Linked DNA regions of Homo sapiens: region 2 is linked to region 1. The links come from fine-mapping of genetic effects on gene expression. A gene starts in region 1. The other region holds a variant in brackets. All regions are shown on one strand. Distances are from middle to middle. Region 1 holds the start of CLTCL1 (clathrin heavy chain like 1). Region 2 overlaps CLTCL1 (clathrin heavy chain like 1).

What was found.
Region 2: its variant is fine-mapped to the expression of CLTCL1 in neutrophils (BLUEPRINT, PIP 0.95).

The regions. Positions count from the first base shown.
Region 1 is chr22:19,289,885-19,292,790 of GRCh38, forward strand. It overlaps CLTCL1 (clathrin heavy chain like 1), which reads right to left and starts at 1,835. Exons shown (of 33, transcript NM_007098.4): 1 at 1,716-1,835. The coding sequence starts at 1,757. It overlaps LOC105372859 (a long non-coding RNA gene), which reads left to right and starts at 2,063. Exons shown (of 6, transcript XR_938002.3): 1 at 2,063-2,446. RefSeq lists an enhancer at 1,024-1,537 and silencers at 1,648-1,832, 1,714-1,953.
Region 2 is chr22:19,181,889-19,184,794 of GRCh38, forward strand. CLTCL1 (clathrin heavy chain like 1) reads right to left here. Exons shown (of 33, transcript NM_007098.4): 30 at 1,502-1,723. Among named protein-coding and RNA genes, the nearest start is that of SLC25A1, 4.6 kb to the left of the region's middle. The variant G/A (reference allele first, on the strand shown) is at 1,488.

The sequences.
Region 1 (2,906 bases):
AGGCAGGAGTGGCAGGATCAGGGATTTAAGGAACAGGCTGAAGTCTCGAAATGTCTGTAGTGAAGGCAGTGTGTGCTGACTCAGTGTTTGCTCTACAGAATGCACAGCAGCCTCAAAGACCCAGTCAGTGTTAGAGACCACAAACCAGACTTGCATTCACGTGGCTGCCCACCACAAGCCACAAGCATTTTCCAGATAATGGAACATATCAACTCTGATGGACATTACAAATCCTGATGGACATTAGAAACTCTGATGGACACCTAAAATATCTTGTTGCTTTCTTGCCCTTTGAAAAGAACATATTTAGATAGTGGTTAAGCACAGGCATTGGAATCAGACCTGGGTTAGAACTCAAGCTTTGTCACTTACTAGCCATGTAACTTTTGCTGAAGGAATTAGAATATTAACCTCAGTGACCCATGGTAGAAAACAGGATATCACTATCTGCCTCAGTTATCATGAGGATTAAATTAAACCAGATTTATAAAATACAGTAGTCTAGTGAGTGGCAAGAGAAACGGCTCAGTAAATGATAACTACATCATCATCATTATTATGAGCAGCAGCAGTATTTTGCTACCTCAACATGACTGGTGCTGGCTTAGCTTAGTGGCAGAATGAAGCCCGGACAGATGTCAGGGCACTCCCACCTCCATACAACTTCCACTGTGTCACTAACCAAGTGACCCTGGCAGGATCCCCTGGATATCAAGTTTCCAGTCTGCAGAATGAGGGGACTGGACTGCACTACACAGTTCCCAAGGCTTTTCCCGTCTGCATCTAGGGCTAACAGTGCTCTGCACTGTGAAAATAGGAACTTTCAAGCAAGCACGTTCCTCGATGTACTACTTTGTGGTCAAAAAGACTTGAGTCTGAATCCTGTTCTTATTGAATGAAGATGAGTTCTTTAACACTTTTGAGACTCGGTTTCCTCATCTAGAAAAGAGTAAGCGAATCGCAACGAATGGTAGTGTGATGATTTAACACAGAGCACTCAGGGAGGAGCCGCTGGCTATCCCTCCTCTGCCGCACCTCCCAGGGTAAACGTGGGGACCAGCACCGCTCCCGGGCAGACCCGCGAGCGGCCCGCACGACGCCCGACCTGAGCCTTTGCTCAAAGCAGGGGGCCAGTCCTTATGTTTCTGAACACAAACAAATGGAGAACAAACTGGGACCTTATTAAAAAGGCAGGCTTTGGGGGTGTTACTGCATTGAAAAGCCCTATTTAGGCTTGGCCCTGAGAAATTTTTCTCTTGGGTCACGCATGTTCACGGTCCTCCCAGGCGAAGCCGCCCTGGGGACGAAAACCGATCACAGAGGCAAACTCAGGGGCGAATAAGGACCGCAGGACGCCAAGGAGGGGCGTGGAGCTGTGGGATCCGCGCGGCCCTTGGGTTGCCCTGCCTGCAGCGGGAATTTGTGTGCCTCCTCGCGGGCACTGAGCGGGGCGTCCCAGGGGGCGTTGGCTTCCACCCCCACCATTCCCCAGCCGGCCCCGCCGGTAACGGGCTTCGGCGACGGCACCCAAGCGGGTCCTCAGGAGCGGCCGCCGCGCCCGGGACGCCGCAGCCCCAGCCCAGGTGGGAGGTCGGAAATCGGCGCGGCCAGCTGGGCAGCGGCTCAGCGGGGCTGGGGGCGCGGGGTCAAGCCTGGCAGTCCGGCCCGGCGGAGGCGCGGCTGACAGGGCAGCCCCCCAGCCCGCCGGGCCTCACCTGGAAGTGCTCCTGAAAGCGAACAGGGAGGATCTGCGCCATGGCTGGTGCGGGACCTCGGCGGCGGCGGCGGCAGCGGCAGGAATGAACGCCGACCCCTCGCGCGGGCTGACCGGTGGCGACGGCGCAGGCGCAGTGCCCCGAGCTCCCGGTCCTGGCCCCCGCCCTCCTCCCTGACCGCGCCCCGGCCCGCACCCCCTTTCCCCGCCCCTTCCCCCGCCCCTGCCCCGCCCCTGCCCCGCCTCTGCCCCGCCCCTGCCCCCGCCCCTGCCCCCGCCCCTGCCCCCGCCTCTGCCCCGTCCCGCCTGCGCGGATCCCTCCGCCCGCTCCGAGGGTCCGCGGAAAGTAGTCCCGCGCGCCCTCTGCCCTGACGCGGTGTGTGCCAGCTACCCGAGTGAAAGGTTTTCGGGGGATTAATCCTGATGGGGTCTGCGGCGGCCCTTGCCCAGCGCCTTCCACATGTGGAGCGGGCCAGTGGTGCTAGTTCTGCCGCCAACTCTGGACGGTTGAGTTCAGGGCCACTTTTTACTCAGGCACGGATGTGACAGAAAGATGGAAAAGGGTCTTGGAAGAACCACATGTGCCGTATAACGAACGACCTTTTGGTCTGAGGAGGACCGTGTATATGACGGTGGTCCCATAACATGATAACGGAGCTGGAAACTTCCTGTCCTCTGGTGAGGGCTTAGCTAAGGACATTTCCTCTCCTGTATTTGGAGATACACGTACAGGTATGTCATTACCGTGCCAGGGGAATAACGCACCTCACACGCGGTGCGGGTTTGCGGCCTAGCAGCAGCGGACCGCATCAGCTGCCTAGTTGTGTAGTGGCTGTGCCATCTGAGTTTGTGTAAGTTACCTTGTGATGATCCCACAACCGAGACGCATGTCTCAGAATGCATGGATGCATGGGACGCGTGACTGTACGTGTTACAGACGTGTTTCGGCGTGAGGCTCGGCCCCTGCTCCTTTAGGAAACACCTTTCCTGGCTCATGCGGTTTCTAGAGAACACTGTGTCGGAATATCAATGTAGAGAGTCAGCGAAGGTCATCTAGCAGCAGATGACCAGCCCCAGGCCAGTGAGGATCACCCAGAGTGCCCGTGGCTGCACGACAGTAGTAGCAGGTGGAAGCTGGAGCCCACACCTGGTTTGCCCAGCAGCCAGTTGTTTTTCCGAGGCACCGTTGGCT
Region 2 (2,906 bases), 110 kb before region 1:
GGGCCAGTGGAGTCTGGGAACCCTGGGCCAAGGCTGTGCAGCCACAGTGTGGACCAACGTGATAGTGGCTGCTAACTCCATCATCCGCAACAGAAAGGGAATGTGCGCCTCAAAGTCCTGGGGGATCCCCACAAGCACTTTGACCCCCACAGCAATGACACTCCCTAGGGCCTGGTGAGCCTGAGTTCCTCTGACACTAACCCACGGGCCTCTACTGCCAGGAAGAGATTCAAGCACTTTCTTTCCTTGTGCTGGTTCTCAGAACACAGACTACTTTCAGGAAAGACACCCGAGGGATGGGAAAACCTGCTCATCATGGTGACAGCAGCTTCCACAGGCACGCACCAGACACCGCACACCACACACTGCATACCACAAACCACATACCACACGTGCCGCCTGTAGGGAGTTGCCATCCACTGTGGTGGGGGAACCAGGGCCCTTGTCAATCCAACCAGTCCATGTCCCCTGGCAGCCCACGAATCTCAGGCCACGTAGCCAGGGCTGTCCCTTCCTCCCCAACCCTTGAGAGTCATCAGGGAGTCTCACTCAGGCATGCTATGCAGATGGGATGGGGTCACACTGTCCTACAGGAGGGCAACGGCCTTGAATGGACTCTGGGATGGCCTTTATCAGGGGCTGGGCAGCCCCCTGGAGGCTCTGCAGGCGGCAGGCAGCCCTCCAGGCTAAAGCTGGCAGCATGAGCCCGCCTTCCTGTTTCCTTCCTACCTCCCACTCACCTGGGAGGCCCCTCCCTTCCCTCGCTCCACTGAGTGATGCTTCAGCATGAGTGCCTTCCGAGGCTCTCCATCTGGCTTGAAGGAGGTTAGATAGGCAAGTAGATGCTACTGGAAGTAGCTTTTCCAGTGTTAGAAACAACAAACTGTACCAGATGACACTGCTGACACAGGTCTCTGGACAGTGGCTAAAGCTAGATCCCAGCAGGGACTCCTAGGACTTCAACACCCAGGGAGAGTTTTACAATCAAGTACTGTCACTTCGATGAGGCAGAGAGTCATCCTCCCTATAGCTGTTAGAAGGATTCAGTGGATCTGTGAATACTCCTACTATGTGTTCAGCAAAAGGCAGCTACCACCAACCGTATGCTAACAGCTGCACCCCCAGACGCCACTGGGAGCTCCTCAGGGAGCTGGGATTGCCAGCCACCTCACTGTCACCTTGTTGAAGTCCAGGGCTGGGGATGAGCACGCCTGTTGTGCTCCTAGCAGTGTGCACATTGGGACAGCTGCCCAGCCAGAGTCTACAGGAGGGCTGCTGCCAGTGGGCACTCCCCATGATGATTTTCTGGAGGGGCTTAACGTTGGGCAGAAAACCACTTCAGCATGAAGGAAAGCAGCCACTCCTGAAGGCAGCCAGGGCTGGCTGGGGAATCTGGGTTGGCCTCAAAGGGGCCCACCCTTAAGACCTGCGGCCAGAGTCACTGCCAGGGTTGGGTCATGCCACACAGGGGCCGGGGAGCTGCAGCC[G/A]GCCCGGCACCTACCTTGCTCAGGTACTCCCTCATCACCTGGATGAAGTAGGGCATGGCCAAGTCCACGAGGTTGTGCCTCCAGGCCAGCTCAAGCACCATGTCTGGGCGAAGCAGGTCATAGCAGGTGAAGAGACAAGCTGCGAAGCACTCCCTCTTGCCTTCCTCCAGGAACCACTGCAGCAACTTCTGGGCCAGCTCAGCATCCCGCGACTCTGCAGCATGCTGCATGGCATCCTGCAGCCAAGGCAAATGCTTGCTTGGGCATCCTGCAGGCAGAGGCTTTGTGCCTGCAGCAGCTGGGCCGGAGGGCAGGGAGTGGCACTAGACTCCACCAAGGACTTCCTGCGCTGTGGAGCAAGCCTGGACCCATGGCTGGGCCATTCCCTATGCCCTGCTGCCCACTGGTGAAACGGAGATGCCACCTCCGGAGGCTCTGGAGGGGACAGGTGGCTCACGGAGGCGCAGGTGCCCTGGGAGACAGGAACTCTAGCCCCGAGGGCAGAGGGCGTGCACAGGCTGCTCTGAGGAAGGCACTGATGGGAGTTTGGGGGTTGTGGGGCTGCTGCAGAGGTGCTGCACTCAGGTCCATGGAGCGTGTGACACCAGGGGAGCAGTTAGGAGGGGTACGGCTACTGCTCTAGAAACAGCAATGTGTTTTTCTTTCAAGTGGCTCAAAAACCCCTAACTGCTATTTTCATCCTTGCAAATGTATTTGTCTAAGACAATATCATTGACAAAATAACACCTGCACCTGACCAGTCCTGAAGAAGCCTGCACTTTCTGTGGCCATTCTCTATTTTCTAGCTCCACAGCAGGCACTGGATCACCTGATTCCTTCTATGGCAGGGGCTATTAGTACCCCATTCAGAGACCAGGAACCTGAGACCCAGATGTAGTCACTTGCCCAGGGCCACTCCACCTGGAGTTGGCCATGATCCACTGACTGTGACCTGTGCTCTCCAGGGATACCCTGTGGCGGTCCCAGCTCTGCATGCCTGCCATCGCCTGCAGCACACACCTCTGAGTTCCGTTTGGGAGACCCCTGAGGACGCCCAGTGCCCACATCTGCATGGACCCGATGTGCTGAGCTGGCTCCGGAAAGAAGTCTCCCCCGCTGGCATGCTGCTCATCGATCGCTGCCTCCTGACCCACACTGTTCCTACAAAGGCACCAGGATTCTGACCCTCAGGTGAGAGCTCCAGGTGCCTTTGGGTCTCCGCTTTGAGGACCTGTGACGCCCGCTCATCTGTCTCCCTGCCGTGCCCTCCACCGGCCCAGCCTACCCTTGCTGACTTGTCTTCCACATGTGCCTAAAGTGGGCCCTGCTCTGTTCCTCCTCTGTGGGCCTTGGGGACTGTCTCACTGCCTTCCCAGAGGACTTCCAGTAGAAGCAGCCCCCAGGAAGCTCCCAGTCAGT